Linked DNA regions of Homo sapiens: all the other regions are linked to region 3. Evidence: fine-mapped expression QTL. A gene starts in region 3. Each other region holds a variant in brackets. All regions are shown on one strand. Distances are between the middles of the regions. Region 1 has its middle 10 kb from the start of LINC02642. Region 2 has its middle 36 kb from the start of LINC02642. Region 3 holds the start of SFMBT2 (Scm like with four mbt domains 2). Region 4 holds the start of SNORD129 (small nucleolar RNA, C/D box 129).

The links.
Region 1: its variant is fine-mapped to the expression of SFMBT2 in whole blood (INTERVAL, PIP 0.99).
Region 2: its variant is fine-mapped to the expression of SFMBT2 in whole blood (TOPMed, PIP above 0.99).
Region 4: its variant is fine-mapped to the expression of SFMBT2 in whole blood (TOPMed, PIP above 0.99).

Annotation. Positions count from the first base shown.
Region 1 is chr10:7,479,719-7,486,887 of GRCh38, reverse strand. It overlaps the pseudogene RNU6-535P. Among named protein-coding and RNA genes, the nearest start is that of LINC02642, 10 kb to the right of the region's middle. RefSeq lists an enhancer at 5,792-6,031. The variant A/G (reference allele first, on the strand shown) is at 2,772.
Region 2 is chr10:7,504,580-7,512,152 of GRCh38, reverse strand. No RefSeq gene overlaps it. Among named protein-coding and RNA genes, the nearest start is that of LINC02642, 36 kb to the right of the region's middle. The variant T/C (reference allele first, on the strand shown) is at 4,266.
Region 3 is chr10:7,406,223-7,413,698 of GRCh38, reverse strand. It overlaps SFMBT2 (Scm like with four mbt domains 2), which reads left to right and starts at 2,665. Exons shown (of 21, transcript NM_001387889.1): 1 at 2,665-2,838. RefSeq lists enhancers at 576-1,495, 1,496-2,416, 4,768-4,847, 4,895-5,790 and silencers at 2,652-2,791, 5,008-5,347.
Region 4 is chr10:7,185,728-7,192,811 of GRCh38, reverse strand. SFMBT2 (Scm like with four mbt domains 2) reads left to right here. Exons shown (of 21, transcript NM_001387889.1): 16 at 4,079-4,188. SNORD129 (small nucleolar RNA, C/D box 129) reads left to right here and starts at 6,028; the gene lies at 6,028-6,132. The variant C/A (reference allele first, on the strand shown) is at 4,250.

The DNA of each region.
Region 1 (7,169 bases), 73 kb before region 3:
AATAAAAGGTATCCATTTAAATGACATTTTGATTTGTATCTGTGCAATCTCAGCCACAATTAATATATAAATGATGGGGTGCTCCCTCCAGCAGCACATATACTAAAATTGCAGAGATACAGGGAAGATTAGCATGACTACCGTGCAAGGATGACTTGCAAATTCATGATGCGTTCCGTATTTTTAGTAACTCAGCAACGGAAAGTCAGATACTGCATGTTCTCACTAAACAATAGGTACACATGGACAGACAGAGTGAAGAATAGACATTGGAAACTCCAAAAAGTGGGAAGTTGGGAGGGGCGTGAGGGATGAGAAATAACCTATTGGGTACAATTTATACCGTTCAGGTGATGGTTACGCTAAAAGCACAGACTTCACCACTATGCAGTCTATCCAAGTAACTAAAATGCATTTGTACCCGCTAAATCCATAAAAATAAAATAAAGGTGTAGATGATGGCGCATTTCCACCATCGCAAGTTCCTTTCACCCTGTCTCTAGGGATGCCCATTCCCAGCCCCGGGCAGCCCTTCCTCACTTTCTGTTTCTTTAGATTCGATGTGCCTTTTCTAGAGTTTCACAGACATGAGCTAGAATGCCTAGGATGGACTCTTTTGTGTTGGGATTCTTTCCAATGCATCTGAGTTTCATCCCAATTCCTGTGTGTGGCGTACCGTTCCTTTTATTACCGATTAGTAACCTATTAGGTGCGTTTGCCATCATTTGTTTGTCTAGGATAGAACGCTTTGGCAAACCTTTGGATAGCTGAATTTTTAAAAAGATTTCTAAAGTCTTTTGACTACGAGCTCTTCCCCCTACCAGGCAAACTCTCTGATGGTCAATTATCAGAAAGGAGCCGGTGACTGACAGCGGAGTCTGCTGCTTCCGGGTAACCCAGCTTGGTTGCTTAGCAACAAACAGAAGAAGTGTATTAGTTTAGTGGATTCTGAACAAAAAGGTAATCATCTTTTATCCCCAGATAGACAGGAGACGATGTTATTCCGAGTGAAGTGGGGGAAAAATAAAAACCGTAAAAATGGAAAGAAAACACATCTTGTAAATAACCACGATGACGCCTTCCGTAGGCACACCAAGTGTGCTGTGAAGACCAAGAAATCCCTGTTTAGACAAAATACCATGGTGTTAGGTGCTGCTGTGCAAAATAGTTTAAAATTTGCAAATAACTGATACCAGACATTAATAACTCATGACAGAGATAAAGAGAAACAGGTTAACCTTCATTAGCATGAATTCTGCAAAGGATCCATCTGAGATGAGGAAGAAACCTCGTCCCCTCTCCATGCCCCTTCAGAATGGAAGGCTAGAACTCCGGTAGATGTTATTCTTCCTCTCGCTGAATTGAGTAATTGTTTTCCGTAGTAAATGTGATTGACTTGTGTTTGTTCACTGGATTCCTTAATCTCAAAAAGAATGGCATCCATTTTGCAGGCAATGATGCTGACGGAAGTTATTTTTTTTTTTTTAAACTTCCTCGGGAGTTTTGCCAACTTGCGATGGCTACTTCCTTCTCATTATCGGCACCTCCTTCCCAGCACCCAACAATATCATCTAGCAGAAATAGCTCTGCTAAGAATCACTGATTTAACGAGTAGACTGTCCTTCAGCCATTGAATGCGAAGTGTTTAATAATCAATCAGAGATCGGGTTCACTTAGGTTTACGGGGTTGAAAGGGAGACAAAAACCCTTCACCATCACTTCTCAGCCAGTCCTGGAGCCGCTCTCCACTTCCCTCCTGATGACAGGTTTCTGGGTTTAAATCATGCCCCCAGGGAATGGATGTGAAACTGTGGTCCTGCAGTTTGCTGTCAGTGCCTGGGTATCCTGTAAAAGACAGCTTTGCAGTTTCATTTATTGGAGGGGCAAAGTTGACTGCCAAATAATTGGGTTGAGACTCCCCCAACTCCCCCTTACTTTTCTTGGGATTGTAGGGACCACTTCTCCCCATAAACATATTAAATTGCAGCCTTCCAGAGGAAAGAGATAGAGGAACACATCTTTCAGAGCTGCTATTTTTTTAAATTTATTTTCAGACTAATTAAAAATGTTCTGGTCTTTTCTGGTTTTGAATTGTAAAGACGTGCGCTTGTCCTCTGCATTGTGTGTGTGTGAGAGCACACCGAGACAGAGGAACAGGAAGGCAGAGTCTGCAAAAAACCTTGCAAAACCAAAACACATCCTGGGGCCCCACACAATTAGTGAAAATCTTGCTGCTACTGTAGAGCCGAGGTGTAAAAACTTTGAGCTGCTAAGTGCTTGCAGCATTGTGCTCTCTGCTTGTGACATTTTGTGGCCGTGGTTTCTGCTCAGGTGAGATTTATCAGTTCAAAGAATAGACTCAATGGAAAAGTACGGCTTTGCACATAAACAGACTGTCGTTCACAACCACCACGTTGACGGCAGTTTACTGAAATTAATTCTCCTTTGAGTTAAAAGACTTAAAGCTCCCAAAGAATGTGTCCATGTTTATATATTTTAAAATATATAAAAGAAAAGCCAAATCACTTACCACTTAATTTCTAAGTTAGTGTTTCTGAGGGATGGAAAAAAAATAACTAAAAGTTTTGGACCAGAGAATTTTTTTTTAATTTTTTATTTATTTTATTTTATTTTTTTAAATTCAGATTTGGGGTCAGCAGTGGCACTGAGGTTTTGGTTGGATTCCATCTCATCCTTTTTTTCTCTGAGTTTTGTTTTCTTTTTTCCTCTCTGCTATAACTCTCTGGTGAAATGGCAAGGAACTAACAGTG[A/G]TAAGAAAAAGTGAGAAACAGATCCGTGTAGCAGTAATGACGGAAACTAAAAAGCGACTGCACCCCTGAGACATACGCCAATTACAACACAGAGAAATACGATGCCATGACATCTGTTGGGCCTGTTGTTTACCAAGTCGAGGTGGCAAATATTTGTTGGGCATCTCCTATGCGTAATGCATCCTAGACGCCTATTCACGGACCTCAAGACATTTCTAGTAGAGATAACTTATTCTGAACAGCAATTCTCAAAAAACTTCAAGGATCCTCCAAGAAGAGTTATTTGAGTCAGAGGGTATCAGGGAACCAACAGGGCGTGAATGAGATGCGTGGGGAGTGGCTCAGGTCAGGGCCTGGGGATGACATGGGGCAGGAGAGCCATCCTTTTCAGAGTGGTCACTAGAAAGGTTTCATCATGGTTGTGAGGATTTGCTGCCACACTAGGAGGAGACTAGTCCAGGGCCCATGGCTCTGCCATCATGGAGTGTCTGGTCTGGGATGTGGATGAACCGTAGACATTGTTCCTGATGGTTACGAAGACAGAGATTGGGGGTTGAGGAAAGAGCGTGGAGGTAAAACAAATAGTTGCTAGTAGAGAATATGGGAACGCAGCAGGCTATATGCAGGGGAGTGTTGAGACCTCACCCCACCTGTTCAGAGTGGAGTTGAGCAGTGAGTGGGTAACGGGCCGATGAAGGCTGGTCAGGGTGTCCTTGTACACAGGGGCTGGGCTCTGACCAGGTGGTGTGAAAGCCAATAACTGTCATGTACTCGAAATGTCAGCCTCGGCCGAGCCCACCTAAGGTGCTCAGACATTTCCAAAGCATTTTCTGTGGGCTGCACCGGACCGGCTTCAAGTCTCCACAACCCCGACCACACTGGGGCAGAGATATCTTCCAGTGCAATCTGAGGCCTGAGACAGAAAGTGGCTTCTTGAGCTCACAGATGGCTAAGATTGGAGCCAGGACTCTCCAGCCCAGATATTTTAACTCTCCCTCCACCCTGCCCAGCAGTCCCCACAGTCTCAGAACTTCTCACCATCCACAGATATGCAAAAGCACCTTCCAAAACCAACCCCGGGGAAGATCTGACTCTGGATTTGGCGAAACAACCTTGAGATGTTGGGAAGTTCAGGGTTTCTCCACCTCGGCACTATTGGCGCTTGGGGCTGGATGATTCTCTGTTGCAGGGGGCTTTTCTGCTACCCACTAGATGCCAGTGGCACACCCCTTCCCCCGAGCTGTGACAACCCAAATTACTTCCAGACATTGCGAACAATCTCCCAAGGAGGCAAAATCACCCGTGGTTGGAAACCACTGCTGTGGTGTGTCTGTAAATATGGTGGTGTTTGTCCCCACCCTGTGTGACAGGTGTCCCCAAGGCCAGGATGAAGCTGCTGAGGCCAGGGTGAGCTAAGAGGGGGTGAGAAGAAGCAGCCTGAGTCTGGTGTCACACAGGACTGAGGAAGTCCAAAGAACAGGCTTTTTGTCCTGGTCCTGATGGCCATGGAAAAAAAATCACTTGATCTGTCCCACCATGCTGTTCCTCACGTCTATTGCATTGAGATAACTTCTATTTTATTGATTGTAGATATGGGGTCTTGCTCTGTTGCCTAGGCTGGTCTCAAACTTCTAGCCTCAAGTGATCCTCCCTCCTCAGCCTCCTAAAGTGCTGGGATTACAGGTGTGAGCCACAGAGCCTGCCTGAATTGAGATCAGTATTTTTTTTTTTTTTTTGAGATGGAGTTTTGCTCTTGTTGTCCAAGCTGGAGTCAATGGCGTGATCTCGGCTCACTACAACCTCCACTTCCCAGGTTCAAGGAATTCTCCTGCTTCAACCTCCTGAGTAGCTGGGATTACAGGTACACGCCACCATGTCCGGCTAATTTTTTGTATTTTTAGTAGAAATGGGGTTTCACCATGTTAGCCAGGATGGTCTCTATCTCCTGACCTCAGGTGATCCACCCGCCTCAGCCTCCCAAAGTGCTGGGATTACAGGCGTGAGCCACCGTGTCCAGCCGAGATCAGTTTTAATTCTCACATTCTACTGCAAAGGTAAAATGGTCTTGGGCTGCAGTTCTCTGTTTTGAGACACCAGACAGGTGAAAAGGCAGTAAAGTCCCTGGACTCTCATCACCAGTTGGCTGGAGACCCAGGGTATGAGCCCAGAAGGAAGGAATAACAGCAGAGGCTGGAAAGTGAGCCAGTGAGTGGGGCTGTGTATGTCAGAGCTTCCTGCCATCTCTCCTCTTCTTCCTCTTCATCCCCTTTCCTTCCCTTTCCCTCTTCTTTCATTCATTAACTGGTGAGACAACCAGCCAGCATTGCCGAGAGAAACAGGGAGACTGTGACGATCCACAGGGTGCGGTATCATGTTTGTATTCCACATAGTCAGTATGATTCAAAGATCCAAAAGTTTGACCCAGCATGTTGGACAGGCACATACACAACATACATGCATGCACACGCGTATATTTCTAGTAATTATCCACAGGAAGTAGTGAGTCCACAATGCCAAGAATTTCTCCTTTTCAGTGGCTATTTGTGATGAGAAGCAATGTGCATTCCACTGCATTCTAGCATCAGATTATGGGAGGGGAATGTGGTCATCGAAGGCATGTCCTCTTTCCTATAAAGATTTCATTCAAATAGAGTTCTGCATCTGATAGTAAAAACAAACAAACAAACAAACAAACAAAAAAACAGAGGACAATTTCTTCGCCAATGAAAATGGCCCCCTATGAAGGCATAGGAGCCTATTTCAAATAAGGATTAGGAAAAATTCAACAAGGGAAATGATGCTTTGAGTATGTTAACTTGCAAAAGGAAGAACCCTATTTCCTCTTTTCTAAGAGGAAGACAACTACTTTTGCTTTGATCAGAGTGCCGCTTGAGTGGCCAGAACTGACAAGGTTGGCAGAAGCGATGAGCTGAGAATTAAGGGCAGCGTCTGGGCCTGTGGGAGGTGCCATATGTGGGCTCACATCCACTGAACCTTGATCTCCTTTGCACACCTCCATGTAATTTATAAATCAGCAGTATTCACTCTGCCAAGAGGAAGTCTACAAAAAAGAGATGTGCTTGGCGCTCCTGGAAATGCTTTTACTTTGGGGAAAAAGCAGAGTGTACACTTTGAATGGAAATAAGCAGGCTGAAGCCACAGAGGCCATTTATATGCAGCACCGGGATGCAGACAGGAGAGCGGAGCCCTCCTTAAAGGCGCAGATCGCTGAGAAGGCTCATCTCTCTCCATGCTTAAGAGGCCTGACTAGGCTTGGGTCTTGTTTGATAACCAGGGCATAACATTTAAACATACTTACAAAAATTCTTCCATAAAATCAATTCATAAAAACTTCTAACTCTGAAGCAAAGTGTTAAAATAGGTACTGGGTTACCCGCAAGGATTGTTGTCAGAATAAAATGAAAGGACCTAAAAAGTTAGCATACCAGTTGAAGCCATTCTTACTAAGACATGCATTGTATGCTTGAATAGATAGAATTCAGAGCTAAAATCTAAACTTTGGCCGTCTGAACACTGCCCATCAGGATCAGCCACAAGAGCCCCCCCTCAATTACAAAGCTGGTCCTCACCACCTAGTTCATGTTGGATTTTGATCCTTCTCAGTGTCTTCACTTATTCTTGTTATTTCCAACATCATGTTTTCCAAATCCCAACTTCTTCCCTCACTGGCTGTGTGACCATGGGAAGTTACTAGACCTCTCTGAGCTTTTGTTTCCTCATCTGTAGAATGGGGTAACAGTACCACCTTCAGTTACAGAACACCCCACATCAGCTGGTTTGCAACATGCCCTTGATTTCCCCTGGTTTCTCTCTCGCCTTTTACTCCCATCCCCACCCTTTCCCATCCCGGGTCCCTGCTACATCTCATGACTGAACAACTCTTGCAACCCACGGGGCATAATTTTGCTCCTCTCTCTAGCCACAAGACAAAAAAAATGATAATAAGACTAATCATGTGAATTCGAGGCTCTATGCAGCGTCCATAGCCCACAATTCAGACTCTCCAGGGATGTTTCTGAATAGGAACCCCACAATTCGCCAGATGACAACACGTCACATCCAAATAACCCCTCTTCTTGCTTCGCCACACCAACAAATGGGGTCGTATAAATTTGGAGAGCTAGAGTAGATTTTCTCTCATCACTGCCTCTCTGCAGTTTTATCCACAGGAAAAAGAGAAACAGTTGAGTCTTGGCTACGTGAATTAATATCTCCTGTCTTATTTTTTTTCGTCGTACTTTTTTTTGTTTTCTTTCTTTTTCTTTATCGTTGTTTTTTTGTTTTGTTTTGTTTTTGTTTTTTAGACAGAGTCTCACTCTGTCACCCAGGCTGGAGTGCAGTGGCGTGATCTTGGCTCACTGCAACCTCTACCTCCTG
Region 2 (7,573 bases), 98 kb before region 3:
AGGTGTGTGTTCTGTACTAAGAATTGTATTGAATACAAAGAATTAATGATATTGTCCCTGCCACCAAGAAACATAGTTGAGTGGGAGAGATAGTTATCTTTTCCAGTAGGAGAGAGAGGAGTTTGTGCTTCAAGTATCATGAAACATTCTATACTATGTGAGTGATAAAGGCAAGCACTGTCCTAGGCGTCTATGTGCAGCTGAAGTCACTGAGGAGTGAGTAGATGGTGTTCAAGACCTTGGAATAGGAGTAGATCTTGGAAACACGGCGAAGAGGCAGAACACAGAAGCAGAGCCAGGAGTGACGTGTGCCAGATGATTTTAATCAGTGGTACAGTCTGGGGAACCAATACTCTAGATTTTATCCCAGGACAGACCCAGAACATCAGACATAATTAGATCATGCCGTTTAGCCTTATCTGCAGAAAACAGCTTTTCCGGAACTGTGTGTTGGTGTTATGTCCTTTCTTGACTAAAGTGAAGGAAGTCTTCTGGAAAAAGGTATTTAAAAAATCAGAACACTGCACTAGTCTTTTCAGTAAATGTTACAGGAAAAACTGGACATCCACATGTTTTTTAGAAAAAGAATATAGACACAGACCATACATCCTGTGTGAAAGTAATTCAAAATGGATCATAGACCCTAAATGTAAAAGCAAAACCATAAAAAATAGGAGAAAATCTAGATGACCTTGGGTTTGGTGATGACATTTTAGATATAACACCAAAGGCATGATCTATGAAAGAAGTAACTGAGAAGCTGAATTTCATTAGAACTAAAACTTGTACTTTGAGAAAGACACTGTCAAAAGAATGAGAAGACAAGCCACAGACTGGGAGAAAACATAGCAAAAGTCACATCTAATAAAGAATCATTATCCAAAATATACAAAGAATTCTTATAATTCAACTATAAGAGAATAAAAAACCTGGTTAAAAATGGACAAAATATCTGAACAGACACCTCACCAAAGAAAGCACACAGATGGCAAAGAAACATATGAAAAGATGCTCCTCCTCATATATCATCATGGAAATACATATTAAACAACAGTGAGTTCCCACTACACACTATTATATTATACCTGTTAGAATGGCCAAAATCCAGAGCACTGACAACATAAATTGCTGGTGAGGAGGTGGAGCAACAGGAACTCTCATTCACTGCTGCTGGGAATGCAAAATGGTGCAGCCACTTTGGAGACAGTTTGGCAGTTTCTCACCAAGCTAAATATACAGTTACCATGGGATCCAGCAATTGTGCCCCTTCCTATTTGACACATCAGGAGCATCGCCATCTTGGACAAACACTGCCATTTTAAGTTCCCCTAAATCCAGCCCCAAAACATCAGCCTGATGGCTAATGTCAGCATGAACAGAAACATTTCAACCCTTAGAAAACCTGCTCCGACCAGAAACATGCCAACCCTGAGATAACCCCAACTCCAACCAGAGACATTCCAAACCTACAATAAAACTCTCCTTCATACAGAAACATTCTGAGCCTGTGATAAGCTCCCCCTCCCTAAAGCCCTTAAATACCCTTAGTCTGTAAGAGAGAGCACTCCTAACTGAAATTGGCCAGAAGCCCTTCTCAGGTTTATTCTCCAAAATAAATCTGTCTTTGACTATTGAGCCACTTTCTGTGTTTCTTCTTTCTTCAACTCTTACACTATTTACCCCAAGGAGTTGAAAATCTATGTCCATACAAAACCATGCACACCAATGTTTATGGCAGCTTTATTCATAATTGCCAAACTTGGAAGCAATCAAGATGTCCTTCTGTAAGTGCATGGATAAATAAACTATGGAACATCCAGACAGTGGAATATGATTCAGTGCTAAAAAAGGAATGAACTATCAAGCCATGAAAAGACATGAAGGAAACTTAAATACATATTACTAAGTGAAAGAAGCTCATCTGAAAAAGCTATATGCCATATGAATCCAACTATACGACATTCTGGAAAAGGCAAAACTATGGAGACAGTAAAAAGATCAGGGGTTGCCAGGAGCTGGTGTGTTAGTCTGTTCTCATGCTGCTAATAAAGACATACCTGAGACTGTGTAATTTATAAAGGACAGAGGTTTAACGGACTCATGGTTCCACATTGCTGGGTAGGCCTCACCATCATGGCATAAGGCAAAGGAGGAGCAAAGTCACATCTTACATGGTGGCAGGCAAGAGAGAGCTTGTGCAGGGGAACTCCCATTTATAAAACAATCAGATCTCATAAGACTTGTTCACTACCATGAGAAGACTGTTGGGGAAACTGCCCCCATGATTCAGTTATCTCTACCAGGCCTGCCCTTGATGCGTGGGGATTATTGCAACTCAGGGTGAGATTTGGGTGGGAACACAGCCAAACCATATCAGTTGGTGAGGAGGAGGGATGAATAGGGAGAGGATTTTCAGGGCAGTGAAACCACTGTGTGTGATACCATAATGGGGGATACATGTCCTTAGACATTTGTCCAAACCCATAGGATTTACAACACCAAGAGTGAATCATAGTGCAAACTGGCCTTTGGGTGATGGTGATGTGCCAATGTAGGTTCATTAATTGTAAAAAATGTGCCACCCTGGTAGGGACGTTGATAGTTGGAGGAGGCTGTGCATATGTGGAGGGAGGAGGTATAGGGAAAATCTCTGTACCCTCTTCTCAATTTTGCTGTGAACATAAAGCTGCTCTAAAAATAAGGTCTATTTTTAAGTAATAATCATAAAAATATAGAGGCTGAACGAATCATTGATTGAAGGCCTTGAGGGAGCAGCAACGGACAGAGCTGTAAACCTGTGGGCACAAGGTCTGTGTTTAATTCTCAAGCTGCCATTCACCAGCCTGCCAAGTTTTTAACCTCTCTGAGCCTGTTTGCCCATCTGTAAAAGGCGAATGAAAATCAATTCAAAGGAATTTTTTCTATGGATTAAACTACATAGAGGAGCTTTAATAAAGATTTGTTTAAAAACCACCTGGCTATGACTTCAATGTTGCAGTGTGGATGGGACCCTGTCCACCACGGGGCCTGGAGTCTCTCACTGGGAGGCCACGGCAGAAAGTCTTTAACTCCAGGACCAGAAAAATAAGCCTCTCTTCTGCAGTAACTTGTGCATTTTGTCGTGGTTGGCTAGACATTTCAACCACATAAACCCCTTGACCATGGAGAAGTGCAAATCCAAAATGAAGGCCAGTAACTCACATGACGTGACAGTCTGCACCTCTGGGCACTCACTTTCCTTTACTCCCTCCCTCCACTCTCACATGCATTTTTCTGATCTTTGTCTCTTCCCTCAGATCTTATTGGCTGCACTCTCGCCAGCCTCCACAGTTGGTTCTTCAGCTTCAGTGGGACCTGCCATCTTCTGAGACCTTTGCTTTCTTCTTATTTCTGAGTTCCTTCCTATCCTGGTTTCCTTCCACTTCCAGCATAGCTTCCATCATCAGCCACTTCCACTACCCTCTGCACCTCTCCCTGGCCCTTTGTTTCCCTGTCACACAGGACCCCGTGATGGAGCCTTCTTTCTACCTGCTCCTGCCTGGAGGGCTAAGGGCGCTGCAGAAGAGCCTGGCTGTGCAGTCTGGTGGAGGCTTCCTCCTCAGTGCCTGCATCCACGCTCAGCTTGCTCTCCCTCCACAGGCCTCCAGCCATGCCCCAAGCCTCTCTCTCCCTCCACAGGGCTCCAGCCATGCCCCGGGCCTCTCTCTCCCTCCACAGGCCTCCAGCCAGGCCTCGGCCCCCTCTTCCCCTCCACAGGGCTCCAGCCACACCCTGGGCCCCTTCTTTCCCTCCACAGGCCCCCAGCCATGCCCCGGGCCCCTCTCTCCCTCCACAGGCCTCCAGCTACATCCTGGGCCTCTCCTTCCCACCACAGGCCTCCAGCCACATCCTGGGCCTCTCCTTCCCCCCACAGGCCTCCAGCCACATCCTGGGCCTCTCCTTCCCTCCACAGGCCTCCAGCCACATCCTGGGCCTCTCCTTCCCTCCACAGGCCTCCAGCCACATCCTGGGCCTCTCCTTCCCGCCACAGGGCTCCAGCCAGGCCACAGCCTCCCTGCTCTTGGGTGACTGTCTTGATTTCTATTTTCCAGAGTAAATAAAGGCCCCGAGCCCCCTCGACTTCCTGCCACGGAACAACACCCAGGCTTGCAGCTGCATCCCTCCTATTTCCTTCTTCCTTTCTGTGACGACAGACAAGGTGTCCCACCCCCTCTGAGGAAGCCGTCCACCTGCACCTTCTGCCTCATCGAGAAGGGCCTCTCTTC[T/C]GAACTTCACATCTTTCATCTCCCAGCATCTTTCCATTATCTTTTAAAATGTTCAAGTTAAAATGTTCTTTTTTTTTTTTTTTTTTTTTTTGGCAGGGTCTCATTCTGTAGCCCAGGCTGGAGTGCAGTGGCGCCATCTTGACTCACTGCAGCCTCAAACTCCTTGGCTCAAGCAATCCTCCTGCCTCAGCCTCCCGAGTAGCTGGGACCACACGCATGCACCACCACACCGAGCTAATTTTTGTATTTTTTTAGAGACGGGGTTTTACCATGTTGCCCAGGCTGGTCTCGAACTCCTGTGCTCAAAGGATCTTCCTGCCTTAGCCTCTCAAAGTGCTGGGATTACAGGCATGAGCCACCGTGCCCAGCCTCTATTTTTTTTTTTTTTTAAATCTCCCTCAACCCAACTTCATCTTCTATCTACTTTCTGGAGTCTCTGCTCCACTTTGAAGTCACAATTTGCATGGGCTGCTCCTGCTACATCCTTCTTAGTCTGCCACAATCTGGCCCCCATCCCAAATCCCCCAACATCTGCCCCTCCACCTCAATGAAACTTCTCTTGCCCAGGTTATTATTATTTTGTTTGTTTGTTTGTTTTGAGATGGAGTCTCACTCTGTTGCCCAGGCTGGAGTGCAGTGGAGCAGTCTCAGCTCACTGCAACCTCTGCATCCTAAATTCAAGCGATTCTCCTGCCTCAGCCTTCTGAGTAGCTGGGATTACAGGTGCGTGGTACCATTCCCAGCTAATTTTTGTATTTTTAGTAGAGTTGGGTTTCACCACATTGGCCAAGCTGGTCTTGAATTCCTGACCTCAGGTGATCTGCCTGCCTCCACCTCCCAAAGTGCTGGGATTACAGGCATGAGCCTCTTGTCCAGGTTATAAACAACCACTTCATCACTTTCAGTCCTTGTCTTACCTTTCCTCTCAGTCAAATTTGTTCAACTTACTTTTCTTGTCAAAACATGATTTTCCCTTGGTTTCAGAGATAATACCCCTGCGTGGGATTTTAGCCCCCTAAGCCCCCCAGATGCTCATGTTTGGTAACCCATGTAGGCCTTCCTGCCTCTCTGTCCATCTGTTAAATATTGACCTCCTCCAGGGCCTATCTATTAATAAGTAACTCTTTTCATCCCACACACACTCAGAACTCATCAATACCAGAGCTTTAGGGACCATCCCAGCTCTCTCATGAACCCCACACTCTCGCTCCAGCTGCCGACCAGTTACTTCTGGTGGGATGTCCCACAGACCCCTCAACTGCACAAGTGCAATATCTACTCATCCCTTCTCTTCCCCAAATCTGTCCTTCTTTTCATGTTCCATATCTCAGCAAATGGCACCACCAGTTAATCTGCCTAAGCCAGAGACCTGGAAGTCATTCATGGTTGCTGTGTCTACTTCAGCACCCTCATCCAATTGACCAAAAGCCTGCCTGTCCTATCTCTGGACCATGTTTTAATCCATTCTCTTGTCCCCAGGTCCACTGCTCTTAGCTCCATGCAAGCAAGACTCCTGGTCTCCCCCCAACACCCCAGCTTTCCTCCCATCTCTCCATGATCACATTGGCCAGCAGGACCTTTATGAAATACAGAGGTAGTCATGCTGTTTCCTTGCTTAAAATACTCCAGTGGCTTTATGTTGCCCTTAGGACAGGAACCACTCCCTTTCCCATGGCCTGCAAACCTTTCATGGTCCATGTCCTGATTCCAGGCTCAGCCGTGGACCCCCGGCCTTAGGACGCACAATTTCCCCTGCTAGGCACAGCCTCTCCTTCTCTGTAGCCCGTCTTTGTGAGTTGAAAGGGATGTTGCTGAGCTAAACCTTCCTCCTGCAGGATCTGTTCTATGAAACTGTATGATGATCACAGAGGAAGTTTGATGATGAGGCTCCTAGAGAAGCAGATGCCTTGTAAGCTCTCCGTCACTAAGGGAAGGATAACCCCTCAGACGTCCTTTCTTCCTGGGGATTTAAACTGGTTATCATTGTAAGGATAATGCAAAGAAAAATGAACCTATTTGGGATGGTCAGATGAGTGATGCCTATTTGTGAAAATAAACACAGCCTGGGCGTGATTTGTCATGGACATCTGGTACAGACAAGAAGAAAAAAAGGAAAGGGGGAGAAAAGATGTCCGGAGAGAAGAAGGGGAAGGAGGGGAAGAGAGCAACCACCAGCTGAGGACCAGAGCCTTTCCCCTCCCCCTAGCAAGGATCAGAAACAAGGATCAAGTGCCCTGTCCATCCAGGGAGACTGAACCCACTGCCTCTGAGTAACATGTTCTCAGGGCAAAGAGTTTAAAAGAAAGAGGAGGAGATGAAGAAGAAAGAAGTGGAGAAGGAAGAAGACGAGAGGGAGAAGGAGGGGGAAGAGCAGGAGGAAGAGGAGGAGGGGAAAGAGGAGGAGAACAAAGAGGAAAAGAAGGAGACAAAAAAGGAGAGGAAGGAGGAAGAAGAGGAGCAGGATGAGAAGGAGGAGGTGGAGGTGGAAGAAGAAGAGGAAGAGGAAGAGGTGGAGGAAGAGAAAGGTGGAGGAGGAGGAAGAGGAAGAGGTGGAGGAGGAGGAGGTGGAAAAGGTGGAGGAGGAGGAGGAAAAGGGAGGAAGAGGAGGAAGACGAGGAGGCAAATGAGGAAGAGGAGGAGGCCTGTATTGGTAACTTCCTGAAATTTTTACTTGTTATACTGAAATCATTTTCCCAATAAATTTAAGTACCTTGATTCACCATAGGTAAGAATCAGACTAAGAACGATAAAAAGGAAGAAGTGGCCTAAAAAACACAGACCAAAGGCCATCTTGATGGCAAATGCCACTGCCCCTGTAGGCAAACGCAGCAGGACCACTGCGCCCTTCGTGCCTGGCACATACGCATCACCTTGTGCTGGGGCCAGCTGGAGGGGCTCTGGTGGCTTGTTATCAAGGAGCCTCTAGTCTGACAAGCATGTTCTGCATGGCGTGGGTTCCGTGGCTCACTCTCAGAGCTTCTGTCTTTTGGAATCCCTGCAAGGGTCTTAAGGGCAGTTTCCACTCTAGTAGTTGTGAGAGCGCCAGGCAAGTCCATTTGCCTTTCTTTTCCTCTTCCCTTCCCTTCCCCAACTCTGCCCCCTCCCCCCTGCTACTCCTAATCCAATCTCTCACTACCCTATGGTGTTAGAAATCACAGTTCATAGATCAAAATGTATAAAAATAAATTATTTTAAAATCCATATTTTTCAGCAGCTTTTAAACTAGCCTTTCAGTACGTGGAATCTTATGAATATGTGAACTTTGACCTCATTCCAGTGCAGACGTATCACCACTATAACTTTGAATT
Region 3 (7,476 bases):
ACAAAAATAGGAGGGAAGGAGTTTTTTTTTACAATAACAATGCCACCTTTGTGTGCTGCGACTTCCTGATTATATTTCTTAATCACGATAGGTAACCCTCCCCCAAAATCACCATTTTGTGGACCCAGGAGCAAAATTATACGGGGTCTACGTACCCAAAACATTAAAAAAATTCAACTCCTTCGGAGTAACCAGGTAAGATAATGAACGCAGTCATACACTGTTTGGGATCAGGTGTTCTTCTGCATTTGCTTTTATTTGGATGAAAGAATGTTTCGTGCACAATGATGACCTAAAACTGGTAAACAAGCCTGGAGAGAGCGCGGTGGCTGGTTGCAGCTCACGTCTCCACGACTCCTGCAGAAGGAAATTACGTTCTCCCCTTCCCCCCCGCACCCCTACCCCTACCCCAAGCCCCCGGGAAGCCCTGCGCTGGCACCAGGGCAAGCGCCTGTCGGCTCCCGGGAGCTAAGCGAGGCCGCGCGGTCTGGGACGCAAATGGGAGGGAGCAGCCGCTGTCGCCCTGCGGGGCCAGGGCCACTGGGTAGGCGCAGCGCGGGCCAAGAGTGGGAGGCTCAGGGCAGGGGATCCGCACTCGGGGCCATTCCTGCCGCGGCGCGCCCTGCGCTTCAGCAGTGCACAGGGTGGGGACCCCTCGAGGACAGTGGTGCGCCGACGGGTCTCTCGGCCCCTCCCTTTCCACAGGCCCCGCTGTGTGGTGAAGGAGCCAGAAGAGGCGACTTGGGTGTTGAGACCCGGGGCCAAACCGTGGAGAGTGTCTGGAGCCCACACTCCAGATTTCTGGACGCCGCAGTCAGTCCAGCAGGTTCTACCTGGAGCCGCCTCGGGGCTCAACCGGGAGGCAGCGGGGTGCAGGCGAGAGGGTTAATGCGCCCGGTTCGGTTGGTTTGAGGAGTCTCTGCTTTCAGCGACCCACAGGGCAGAGAGCCCAGGGCTCCGGCTTGATGTCCCCAACAGCTGGGGACTGGAGAGCTGGAGGGGTCGCAGACTCAGGCTAGAGTTTAAAGTGCGCCGCGCGGCGAGTCGCTGGACTCTTCTGGGTCTCACGTGGCTCCTGTGTCACATGGAGTGACAGGCCGGCGGAAGGCGCTTTAGTCGTCGCCCAGCGTTCTCCAAGGTGTAAGGAGGCAGGATCTTCCCATACTGGCGGCGCAGGGGGCCTCACGGCTGCGGACGCCCGCCCTGGATCTCTCAGCTCGGCAGATCCTTTGGGTGGAGAGGCGCTCTCCAGGGTCGCGGCGAAGGAGAGCGGCTTCTCGGCACGTCCCTCCGTATTTCTTCTAGATCAGCTCCGGCCCCACCGTCCAGGAGAGGGCCCGCCTGAGGACCTCTGTCTGTGCCGCGCGTGGTCAGCCCCGGTCCCCTCACTCCATGGCTGGCCCCTAGCCCTTCAGAGCGGACACCTCTCCTTAGGGATGCAGGGCGAGGAAGGGCGGGTGGAGCTGCGAACCCACGGGGACCTGGAGGACCTCTTGGCCCCCTGGAGAGGGGTACTATGAGAGGGATTCATGGGACACAGATTTGGGGGACTGGGTAATTTTACCCCCTTTGGCAACCATAAAAACCCTGAGCAAACGTGTCCATTCGCTATTTCGCAGAAATATACAATGCAGGCCCACACAGGCATCTCTGCGAGGCCCCCTAGTTAAGGGCGCAGCGTTCTTCGGAAGCTCTTGGTCTTGCTACCAGGGCGTCACCGGCTTTTCCGCACTGGGGACATTTCGTTTGGGCTCTGCGCAGCCGTTGCACCTAAGGCCCTGGGAGCTCCGCGTTCCTCCCCAGGCGCCCGGGACAAAGTGCCCGAGGGCTCCGCAGACGTCCAGCCCTGCCCGGGGCTCACGGCCGCCGGGGCTCTCCAACGGACCGTCGAGGGCCACGTTTTGCTGGGGTGTGAGCGACGATTCTTTTCCCGCCCTATGAGGCCCGCCACTAGCTAGGTGCCCCATGAGACGCCGTGGCGAGCACGGCTACCTGGCAGCTCGCCCGGGCAGCCCCAACTTAATTTCCTGCCCCTCGGGGCACCTTTCCCTCGAATAGCTCTCCTCGGCCCCTCCAGCCCTGCCCAAGGGGCCTGGAAATGTTCGCAGCTTCAAGAAAGGCTCTATTTAAGCACAGGATGGGGTGGGGCGGGCGGGGCCAAGATTGCCCTGGGGATTGAATTTATCTCCGCTCCCAGCGATCCCCGGCGGATAAAGCGCAAGTTTGTGCACACGGTCGACTGAGCCATTGGAAACCCAGCTCACGAACCGCAGCCAGGGAAACGGGAGTTTGCCCAGTTGTCCTTGCGGAGGGGTGTGCGGAAACGCCCGCGATGGGAACTTTCTGCAGATCATGTATGGAGGGAGCTCACAAAAAGGAGGAAGGGGAGCGCGGTGGGGAGGAGGCCGCGTGGGCGTGGAAGGTCCCAGGGTCCTGGGGGTGCCCGCCTGCTTAGGCGCAGGGAATGGCGCGGAGCTGGCTGGGGAAGGAGCCGATCACGTCCCGCAGGCTAATTGGCTTAAGAAATTTTGCAAGCGCTGGAAAAGGTCGTTGAAGGAGTTCGCTGCACGCGCACGCACACACATACACACACACACAAAATCTTAAAAAAAAAAAAAAAAAAAAAAAAAAAAGAGCGCCGAGCATGCGCACAGAGAGGATGCCATATTGGAATGAGCTGTAGTGGGAGCCGGAGGACCGGAGCGGGCGCGCGAGGGAGGCGGCGGGCGGGGAGCGAGCGGGCAAGGGCGGGCGAGCGAGCAAGCGAGCGAGGCCGGTGCCCTCCCGGGCGGCGACCGGGGCCTGGGTCCACGCCGAGGGCAGGACGAACTTCACCAGGTAGGACGCCGCGCCGGCTGCTGTCCCCGGCGCCCAGGCTGGCCGGAGAGCAGCCCTTCGGCCCGCAGGTTGAGTGCGCTGGTCAGGGGCTTTTTCCAGCCTAGGAAAAAAAAGGAAAAAAAAAAAAAGGAAGGAAGCCTGAGGGAGCTGGGGTTGGAGGTGGCGGGTGGGGGAAGGCTGGGGAGGGTGCAGGGGAGCGAAAGAGAAGGGCAGGAGAAGAAAGCGACTGCACTTGAGCGAAGCTTCAAACTCCTCTGTGCGCTCCAGGTTGTCATTTTTGCTTCCCGGGTCCCCTTCGCCTGCGTCTCCGGGCTCGGAAAAGCCGAGCCGTGCGGGAGTCCGTCCGGAGTTGCAAAGTGTCCTCCTTCCCCGGGCGCAGCCTGTCCCCTCCCGCCGCCCACCTTCCTCGTTTCTGCACTCATTTTAGCGACGCAGCCGCCGCTGCTACCTACCCCGCGCTCCCGCGTCTCCTCCGCGCTGGGGTCTCCCCTTTCTTTTGGTTTGGGTGGGAGAAAAAGATGGTGAGGACGGGGAATCGGAGACCGGCATGGGGGTAAAAATCGTGCAGACATTCGGAATCGCTCCCTTGGAAACATTTGCCTGAGCAACTGAAATAAAATTGGCAGTAGTAGTTTTGGAGCGTGCTCCAGCGAGGATGGTCTTTTTGTTCATTATTTTCTCTTTAAAGTAATATCCTGTCACTTAGGGGCTTTCCGGTTGTCTCCTCTTATTCGACCCCCTTTCAAAATTGCTGACTTGAGCTGGTTCTGGAGTTTATTTTTTAATATGCGTGCGTGGGTATGTGTATGTGTGTGTATGTTTTGCAGAAATCCGCCAAAATGCAACTGTAGGAACTGCGAGATGTATTTATTGATTTTGACCAGGGGCGGTGGGAAGGGGCTGGAGGGAGCTGGGGGATCCTGGAGGGTGGGAAGTGGCTGATTCTCGGTGGCCGGACACTCATCCAGAGCCTGATCCGTACTCGTGTTTTCTTGGAAGCGCCACAACTGCGGGGAAGGAGTCTTTAGAAACCGTGCCAGTTTCAATATGGCGGGCTAAGGTGGCTTTTAAAAACTGAAAATAAAGGTTTTGAGGTGGGAAAAAACCCAGCTGAAGTTTCCACCCCTTAGTTTCGACTCTCTTTGGCTACCCCAGGAAGCGCTTTAGCGAATTAAGTGGGGAAAAAAAGAAGGAATGGGCTGTCCGGTTTTTTTTTTCCGTGGTTAGAGTCTGTGTGTCAAGTCCATTGCTAGGGGGGAAAGGGATGGAGAAGTGCCCCTGGCCCGGACCAGGGCACCGAAACGCAACTGTCGTGTGTGCCTGTGGATTAGTGTGCAGGCCTGCGTGTGCGCAGTTTTTTTGGGTGTGTGTGTCAAAGAGAACCACCCCGAATGTGTGTGTGCGTCTTGGAACCAGACCCTGCCATGATTTGACGTGACAAACTGCGGACACGTGGTGTAAAGTACATGAGGGCAGAGGGAGTGATTTATTTTGTCTTTCTAGGAGACGAGCTAGCTCTCGCCTTGTGTGTGCTGGATCCTGCGCGGGTAGATCCCCGAGTAGGTGGGGCGAGGAGGTGCTTATTAAAAGGACTAACTGTCCCGGGTATTGGGTGCAATCGGGCTGCAGACGCCAGCCGGATTTCGTGTGTGCAGGGGGCGCGCTGCACTTAATAGTGGGCTCCTGCTTTCCTCCACGCCGCTCTGGGGTGGGAGGTGGGGGACCGGGACCGAAGCTTGGAGAAGACCAAAGTGGTGGTGGTGGTGGTGGGGTGGGGCAGAAGGGCGGGAGCGCGCGGCTCTGGGAGACAAGCACGTAGGGTCGAGGCGAGGGGTTGCCTTCCTTACTTTTGGGTTTCGCGCTCTAGGGAAGGTGGGGGATGGGGACAGCGTTTGGGGAAGAAATTGTCCCTTGCTCGGCTTAGGAACCCTCTCGGCGCATCGGAGAGGGGCATCTTCTTGTCTTGGCGGGCATGGAGGCCGGGCAGTCGCCGGGGGATGTGAGTGGGCGGCGAAGTGCGGGGGAAAGGTCGGCGTTCCAGGGCGGGGAGGATCTGGGAGTGGAGTTCGGAGACAAAATCGGGGTCAGGCAGAGGAGCCAGAGGGAAAGCCAGCAAACGCGAGCTCGGGTGAGAGCCACCGGAATGCGGGAACGCAGCTTAGCCGGGAACAGGGTTCCCGACAGGGGTCGCCCGTGGCCAGGACGCGGCCGCTGAACAGAGGTCGCGCGGCGGTTCCTGCCCGAGGGACCTCGTGGGCGGGGGCCACACGGAGGCCGCGCACGGTCCCCGGGGCTGGCGGGGGCAGGTGGGAGGACCTCCTCCGGGCCCGCGAACCTGATCTGGCAGCGGCCAGGTGCCTGGAAGCGTTTTTAAATGATAGGGTTACAAAGACATGTTGGCCAGGTTTGTAGTTAGCGCAGCAACGTGGTTTGCAGGAGCGCAGAACGAGGCTAGACAGGGTCACTCGGACGCCGTGCTGTCAGTGGGTGGGGGCCGGGAGCAAGCGGCACTGGCTTGGAGACCCCGCGGCAGGTGACCCCTCCCACCTGGGCAGCGAGGCTGAACGATGGCGACACGCCGGCCAGGACGCGTCCGTGGCTCCTCCAGCCTGCGTTTGGGCGCGCCCTCCCGGGGCCGGCTTTCCCATGGGCCCCGCGAGGTGGGGAGCAGCCTAAAATGGCTCTGTGCTGCGAAGCTGCAGTTTCAGCCGCGAACCCCTCCCCTTGTCCTCCTGACGTCGCCGCTGACAAGCGCAATTTGCTCCAAGGCCCCGAAACCCGCGATTTTGCACGAGGCCGTGCCGTGGAAGCGGATGTACAGTTGATTACAAAGAACATTCCACAGGGTTCTCGAAGGGCCCAAGTTTTTCCTTCTGGTGGGGAGGAGGGAGGAGCCGAGACTGGGCAGGAGCCCGGCCGACCACCGCTCTGGCACCTAGGGGCTCGGGGCGCACCAGTAGCTGGGGCTGGGGACCTGGATGCGCGAAAAGCCGAGGGAGTTCCCGGGGACGCGGATGGGGACCATTCGGGGCAATAGCCACGGACACCGGTGCTCGTGGTTGATGGCGTTTGTGGTGTCCGAGAATCCCGGGACGACGCTGGAAAGCCTGGGAGACCGTTCTCAAACTTCTGGAGACCAGCTCGCAGTTTCGCTTTCGGAATTTTCAGGATCTTTGGGCCTTTAAAGTTGGGTGGGATTCCAAGAAGGCAAGGCGAGGCTCGTGGCCCTGACGATCGGCCGCCCGACTTCTCGCTCACCCCAGCCTTCTCTACCTTGTCTCCCTGAACCTTGCCGAACCGAGCCGGGTTTGGGGTTCCGGGGCCCCGCGCACCAACCCCAGCCGCGTCCTGAGGGCTCCCGCAGCACAGCCGCGGCTGATCCGAGGCCATTGGTGGGAAACCAATTTAGACGAGGCCGACCCCTCTTGGATCTGGCTCGGTTGCCGCTGCCCACCACTCTCCATCCCCCCTCCACTCTTGCACCGTAGAGAAGGGAACTGGGAGACCTACTAGCGTGTCTACACCAAGGGAAAGAACCCATGTTCCAGCAGGTCGGAGAAAAGGAGAAAACAGGCTTAAATGTGGCCTCGTTTCCTGGGGAGGCTGTTGGGGGTGGGGAGGGAGTTGAGCGGGTAAGTGGGGTGGGGGAGGGGAGAGGCGTTGTTGCTCAGCAGGAATTGTTCCCTAGGCCCGCCCTGGAGATAGGAGGTCTCCTGCTTTTTCCCTACTAAGCATTAAATTTGCACACACTCTGCTTTCTCCCTTCCATAAATAAATACCGTCTCAGATCTTATCTTTGCTCTTGCTGGGACCAAGCTGCCTGCCTGCAAGAGAGTGGGAGACACCCACGCACTTCTCCACTTCCCTCCCCCCCCGCCAACCCTCTAGGTCCCCACCAAAGAGTTTACTGCTTGCAGGACCCATTCTTGGGCCGGTGCAGAACACTGCCCCGAGCCGGGGGTCTCGCAGCCCCCATCCTGGAATAGAGAGTGGTCATCCACTCTGTTCTGATGTGTGTTGCTGTAGAAGTGCCGGTGGAGGCCTGCTGAGGTGGGAACTGTTTCCCATTTCCCATTGGGATACATCCATCCTGAACCTCAAACAGCAGGTCCTGCTGGAGATGCGTTTCAGTAATGATGGAAGTCATACATCGCAGAGTTTTTCCTCTTCCTGCGTTCTTGCAGACATTATAGACTATTTTTTTTAACATTGGTTGTTATAAATAACTGGCTTCACGATTCTTGACTTAAAAGTCAAGACTTTTAAAAAGCCAGAAAAGGTTCCTGACTCTTCCCTGTTTCGTTTTCATCATAAAGCTTTCCTGGGAGTACTAAACACTTATCCATTTTTCCATTGCTGCCCACTCTAGCTAAGGTGGCTTTTTTTTTTTTTTTTAACCACTGCCCCCAAAGGACTCCCACATTTGAGAAGAAATAGTGAGCGATGGAAGCATTGCTTTGAGCAGTAAGAAAATGAGGTTCTATGTAATTGATACAGGATACTTTTGGGATCTAAGAAGTCCGTAAAGGAAATTTACTCTCCCCAGGCCCTACACTTATGCCTAAAAATTTTTGTCAGATTATCAGAGTTTTCTTTTTCTTTTTCTTTTTTTAAATAATTTGAACAAAAATAGTTCAC
Region 4 (7,084 bases), 220 kb after region 3:
CTGAGTCAGAGACGCCCCACTGCAAATAGTGATGTGACCTCCGACCCCCAAAGGGCTCAGGTGACTCTGGCTCCTGGTCACCTGCAGTTTGGGATCTTTCCAGTGGGACCTGGCGGTTTGGGATTTGGCCTCAGCTGTTATTTACGGTTTCGATTTCTGCCCCTGTGGCTGATGCATTAAGCGATTTCCCTCCGTGTTTTTGTTTGGGGTGTCTGGTTCTCACATCTGGGGAGTCTGTCATGTGCTGTTTGAATTTCCCCTTCATTGTGGAGCTCTGAGCATTTGTCCTGGGCTATCACTCACAACAACATGTACCTAAAAACTAGAAAGCTTTCTGGTCGGAATCCTGAAAGTCGGCTGCCCCAAGCAGCCTTCAGTGTTCATAGACTTGGTGGTAGGAGAAGAGCTTTCATTCTTCGAAGCAGTCGTAAGTTTATCGGTAACACCCAGGGGAGGAGGTGTTGAGGGAGTAGGAATGACGATCTCGTATTGAGGACTTTTCCATGTGATATTGGACAGAGGGAATGTCTTACCCAGCTGACCTCAGCGAAGTCAGTCCTCGGAATCAAAGACAGATGCAGACAGGCCTCTTGAAGATACTGTGCTGTGTTTTTGTTGCTGCTGTTTTCAATTTATGCTGAACATTAGTTAACCCACTAAGAATAATGTGCCAGGCTTACGGGTGGGTGTGAACTTGAACACACTCACATGGTCTGGGGTGCTGAGGGAAGGTTGGCAAAGGAAAAGTGCACATTTTTTTTTTTGCATGTCAGGCTTTTCTTTATTATTTTCTCATAGAGAAGACAAGATAAATTTGATGAACTTTCTTATCATAGCATAGGATAAGATTTTGTAGCAATGAAAAGCAATAGCAAATGATAACTCCTGAGCCTCCATTCATGTAGATTATATGGCATCAAATACTTGGAGTGAATTTATTGTTAATTTTTAGATGAACAGAATAATTTAATTTCAGAGCCCATATTGAAATTATTGAACTAATTCAAAAAATATCTATAGAGCACCTACTCTTGCCAGTTATGGTTGTATCTGCCATGGATACAGCAGCAAACAGAATGAAGTCCCTGATTTCCTGCTGCTTATGTCTTAGTGGGGGTGGATGGTGAACAAATAAGCCAATTACGGAATAATCCTATACTAATAATAAGACAAGTTATCCATGAGAGGCCAGAGAATGAAGGGAGGAATGTGCTGTGTACAGAGGATACTCGCAGAGACCTTTCTGATACGGACTTTGGAGTAAAGACCCGGATGGGGAGGGATGGTCTGGAAGGGTTTCCCCAGGAAGAACAATCCTAAGAGAAGAACAGAGCAGAGGAAAGGCCTGATCTGACCTGTTGAAAGGATCGCCCTGGCGGTTGTTGGGAGGTGAGGCTCTCAGAGCGTGAGGTGGAAGACAGGGAAGCCCCTGCCGGCAGGGTGAGAATAGACCCAGAGCTGCCCAGCGTTTCGGCCATGTGCTCTCACCAGGCATCTGGATAAGACAGTTTCAGGGACATTGTGGACACAGAAAAGCCCCATTGGATTGGGTTCCAGAGAGGACTGAAGAAGAGGAAAAGGCGCTGTTGAGTGTAGACTCTTCTTAAGGATTTTACTGTAAAAGAGCTGAGAAATGAGGTGGGGGAATGTGTTAGTTCGTTTTCACATTGGTGATCAAGACATACCTGAGACTGGGCAATTTATAAAGGAAAAGAGGTTTAAGGGACTCACAGATCCACATGGCTGGGGAGGCCTCACAATCATGGCAGACGGCAAAAGGCACGTCTTACATGGCAGCAGACGAGAGAATGGGAGCCAAGCAAAAAGGGGAACTCCTTATAAAACCATCAGATCTCATGAGACTTATTCACTACCACGAGAACATTATGGGGGAAACCACCCCTACAATTCAATTACCTCCCACAAGGTTCCTCCCACAACACATGGGAATTATGGGAGCTACAATTCAAGGTGAGATTTGGGTGGGGTCACAGCCAAACCATATCAGTGGAGGAAGATGAGACACCTAAGGTCCTATTAGTTTGGGGGCAGGGGCAGGCTCCCTGCTACCCTCTCTGATCAAGCACATAATGAACTGAACTCCAGTGTTTTGCAAAGCACAATAATTCAGTCTAACTGTGGCTAGTCATAGCAGCTGTCCACTTAGTTATTTTCATTAGGTAACTATAATACATGACATTGTCATGTGCACAGAAATTATTCAGCTCACAATTCCAAAGTTTTATAGAGAGCTTGTTGAATTTGGAGACGGATGATGTGGCATCAAGAAAAGCCAAGGGAAAAACATTCAATATCCGATGCTTTTCATAATTTAATTGCTGCCTGCTCCCAGGCTGAATTGAACTCCAGAAGGCATTTTCTTTTCGCAGTCACAAAATGCATCTCGATATGCAGCAAATAACATGCAGCTCTGGGGTTTTCTCAGCGAAACCCAATGAAAAGAATCTGTTGAAATTTTATTGTCTGTTGATAAACACTGTGTGCGTTATTGCAGTCAGTACTAATTAGATTTATTTTTAAACTGAGTTTCTGTAAATTGTACTGACAGTAAACAATAAAATCAGATGATTATTCTAATACAGAAAACACAAACGCAACAAAACTGCCGGTACCGCCTTGTCATGGCTTTTTAGCACCTTGGCAAGCCACATTCTCTTGGTGGGTGGCTTTGAGGCCCTTGGAACATAGCAAGATGTTACCCAGGCAGAGAAAAGGCCGTCGCCGGGCTGACCGCGTAGTGTAAAGTATTTTAAGAGTGAATCCTTAGTTACAACTTGAGAAAGCTTTGTTGTTTTCAAATAAATCAGGGTGCAAACCAAGCTGGTTACGTTCCAGAACACAACAGACCCGTGAAAATTGTGACAAGCAAATTCCATCCACATTCTCCCATCTCCTTCCATTTATTTTGTAATAGTCTCCATTAAAAGATAGTGCGTGTTTAGGCACTAGTGCCAGACTCCCATCTCACTCAGGTGTATCTCTTGCTCTCCCAACGGTATTTTGCTCTGAAATCCAAAATGTGAGCTCCATGCCTGGCGTGCTCCTTCCAACTTCCGCACCCGGACGGCCTGCAGGAGGCATGGGCACTGCGTGCTCCCCCGTCTTGTTCCTGCTACTGTCACTCAGTGGAGCTTCACAGAGGATCATTTCATGAAACTCCACACCATAGGCCTCTGCTTTGCACTCTCACGTTCTGTAAGGTCTTTATCCAAACAGCAGCAGCCCAGGAATGTGCCAGAACTCATCAATGTTAATCATTAATGATGATTTGCTTTTTGAAAGGTGAGCACCTTAGGGGTCTGAGGTCCTTGTCCCTTTCATTAGAGAAACTCATTGAGGTTAACAGGAACATCGTATCTCCCCAGGGTCAGCAGCTGGAACTCTTAGAAATGCCTGCTCTTTCTGAGCCCCATGGTAGACACATGCTTGTTTTCTTGGACTTGGGAGTGAGGGGTGGATGGGGGAAATATGATACTGGATGGCGCTGGATATTCCAGACTCTCTTTTAAAATATTCACATTTCAGAGGGTTGCCCTAGTATTAAATGTCCATGAATTGAGCCTGCAAGAGGAGAGTTTCACACAATTTGTTACCCTCCTTGCAAGCATGTGAAGCCTCTCCAGAAGTGTTGGCATGAGTAGATTGTCTCCGTTTCATTAGTTCCTTATGAAATCTGTAAAAATAGAATGAAATTCTCAGTAGCCTATCCAACTGAAGAGTAATCCTGTTGAAGTACAATAAATTGCTCTTTGGTGAAAATGGTTCAGCTTTTCTGCAACTAGAAGAGTTAATGGGAGTCTGCCACCCCCTCTAGAGAGTGGTTCACACTTTTCTAGCCAGAGAGATTGTATTTTACCACGCTTTTTGTCCATGGATGGTGAAACAACTCAGTGTTAGCCTGGCAAGTGTTCTATCAGACTTAATCACGTTTCTTCACTTCATGTGGGTGTAGTGGCGAGCTGTTCCTAAATGTCAGTGGTGTGGTTTTCAAAGCATCCTTGTGTTAGTAGGAATGAATGCAATTGCAGCTCAGTCTGCTTATTTTTTTCCCCAAAAGGTTCTTAGCATGATAATCAACGCAGCCTACAAGCCTGGAAGGGTATTAAGAGAATTACAGCTGGTAGAAGATCCCCACTGGAATTTCCAGGAAGAGACGCTGAAGGCCAAGTAAGTGTTTTCAATTCTGGAAAGCAAGGGTTTTTGTAATACTTCCCCATGCTACTTTGAA[C/A]CTTGCCACTTCTCTTTGTGACACAGCCCTGAGAAATGGAACAAACTGAAGGACGTTCGTTCTGCAGTTCTATGGGCGACACGTAAATTTCTTGGCATTTTTGCCATACAGCGTTGCCTTAAGCCTTAGGATTCCTAAGGTGAAGTAGAGATTTCCTTAACTAATATTTTATTATGCTAAACATTCAGCATCATAAAAACTTGGTATGTTTCAGGACCAATAGGTTATTTGAGCAAAAGGGGGAAAATTGTAAAGAGGATATCCCTCATCATTATTATACTATGTTCATAAACAGCTCTTCATTTTTGATATTATATAGACTATGCTAAATGCAAATGCTCTCTTTTCTGGCAGTTGACAGTTCTCAAAGATAAAAGGAACCCGTGCATGTTTGGTCTGGGTTAAGTAAATGGCAGCAAAATCTGGGTTGGCGTGGAGTCAAGTAACTTTCTTTTATTTGGAAATAGGCTAATTGGAAAGGTGACATTTTTGCTTTCTTTAGGTTTCTTGACCTCTGAAATTGAGAGCAGGAGCCGTATCAATGTACTTGAACTTGGTTGTTTAGGCACATAGAAAAAGATCCGTTTCTAAGATAATTTTATGTTGAATAATTGTTTAGAGTGCTTGAGAGGACTTTTAATATTCATCTATGGGTTTCAAATAGAATAGGTTTTACTAGTTGACTTCTTAATGGTCATTGAGATGTAACATTTGAGAAATGATGTTTTTTTAAAAGAGTAAAACAGTTTTCAGTGGCTAGAGGATATCTAAGCCTCCTTTAGAGAAGGCACCTGCCCTATTCATAGTGAAAATTGAGAAATATGAAATAATTTGTATGATCGGTAATATTTTCCTCTATAGTTAACTTATACTAGTACTGTGACTGAAGATGTTTAGAGATTGTGCCACACTCAACATTCATTGCCAGCAATCCACTTAGCATTCCTGGTGTCATTTTTGAACAGCTCTGGGGTTTTAGATTCAGTAAAACTTATTTATGGTCTAATCATAATCTGCCAAATCACCAAAGTGGAAGAGAATATATGTAAATAAGAAGAGGGTTTATTTGCAGAAAATGGCAGGCCAATTAACGATGCTGCTACATTTCATCATTTCCTTCTTTCTCAAGAAATATTTAAGTGAGCTTCACCTATAGCTCAGAGAAAAACATGTTTTTCTAATATTTCATATTTTTCTGCTTTAAAGAGATCATTAGCAGTAGTGGCACATTTTCTTATAAGTTTGTAGTAGTAGTGGGGGCAGAAAACATAAGCAAGTGTTTATAATGGAGAAATCCTTCTTATTTTAAAACTTTTCTGCAAAATTCAATACAGTCCACGTACACCTAATGGACACAGATATAATAAAAGTACAAAAATCTTAGCTCCCATTAAAACCTTCCCTGCCTCTAAATAAGCCAGAAACTCGCTCCCGCTCCACAGTGAGAGGAAGTTCATTTTGCAAGTGTTTGCACTAGTTTTCATGTTACCAAGTCGATCAGAGCTTTTTATTAAATCCAGCCTGATACAATCAAAACAGACATGGTGAAACCCAGCTCTACTGAATTGTAAAGGCAGCATATTACCTATTATATCAAATATGACAAAAAGTTCCATGGCAAACTCTTACACAGCAACTTCTAATGAGAAAATGTCTGTCTGAACTGGGTTTCAACTGTGCGAGATCATAGCAGCGTCTCAAAGCAGCTGCTAATGATGACAGCTTTACAGTCAGCGGGAGCTCTCCTGCTCTGATACTGTGTGTTGAGTCACCTCTTCCCTTCTGATGTGAAATGACAACTTTTTAGATCTTGACAACTTTGCTATTTTCTTTGGTGCAAATGGGAGGAGAGAGAGCTGGCATCTTCCCATTTAGCTGAAAGGAAGGCATGTTTTCTGTCATGAATAAATTAACGTACAAGAGGAGAGACTCACATTCAAGACATTTGGTCCAGGCCAGGCGTGGTGGCTCATGACTGTAATCCCTGCACTTTGGGAAGCTGAAGCAGCAAATCGCTTGAGTCCAGGAATTCAAGACCAGCCTGGACAACATAGTAAGACCCTGTCTCTACAACAAATAAAATATTTTTATATATATATATATGTGTGTGTGTGTGTGTGTGTGTGTGTGTGTGTGTATATATAGTATGTATGTATGTGTATATGTATGTATATATATGTCATATATACATATGACATTCAGTCCTCTTGGTTGATTATGGGAGCTGTTGTACACAATTATAAAGACTGTTTTCAGGAAGAGAGGATGTGAGATTATCCCTAGGGCAGTGTGATTGCTCTCATTTGGCATCTAGGATTTCTGGTTGTTTTTTCCACCTCCTAAGAGTAAAGACCCATTTACTTGAGAGGATGAAGGTGTCTTTGTAGAGGTTTTGACTTGTAAATATAACGAAAACTTACACTGTTACCTACAATTGTCTCTGGGTGATTTTTCCCCTATTTATCCAACAACCGTACCTTTTATAGAAAGAAATTATTGCAATATTTGAACTTGTGAGGAGTCTATCATTATTACCTTCAACATGTATTGAAAAGCAAAAATTTGCTAGCTTTTATGCCAGGGAAAAAAAATGGCTTCTCATGTAGTTCATTTCTGTTCTGGAAGAGAAAATTTCTTTCTTGCCAATGAATTTAAATATGCTCAATTTACCTGCATTGTTTTGAATTACAGGAGGAGGAATTAGGCTATATCTTAGAGGGGTAAGGAAAAAAAAAGCCCTCCACCTCTCTGCATCTAGAGACATTTAAATATGTTTTTCAGCATGTTACAGAATCTTCTTGAGGGAAAATAAAAAGACTGTCTTAACTCTTCTTT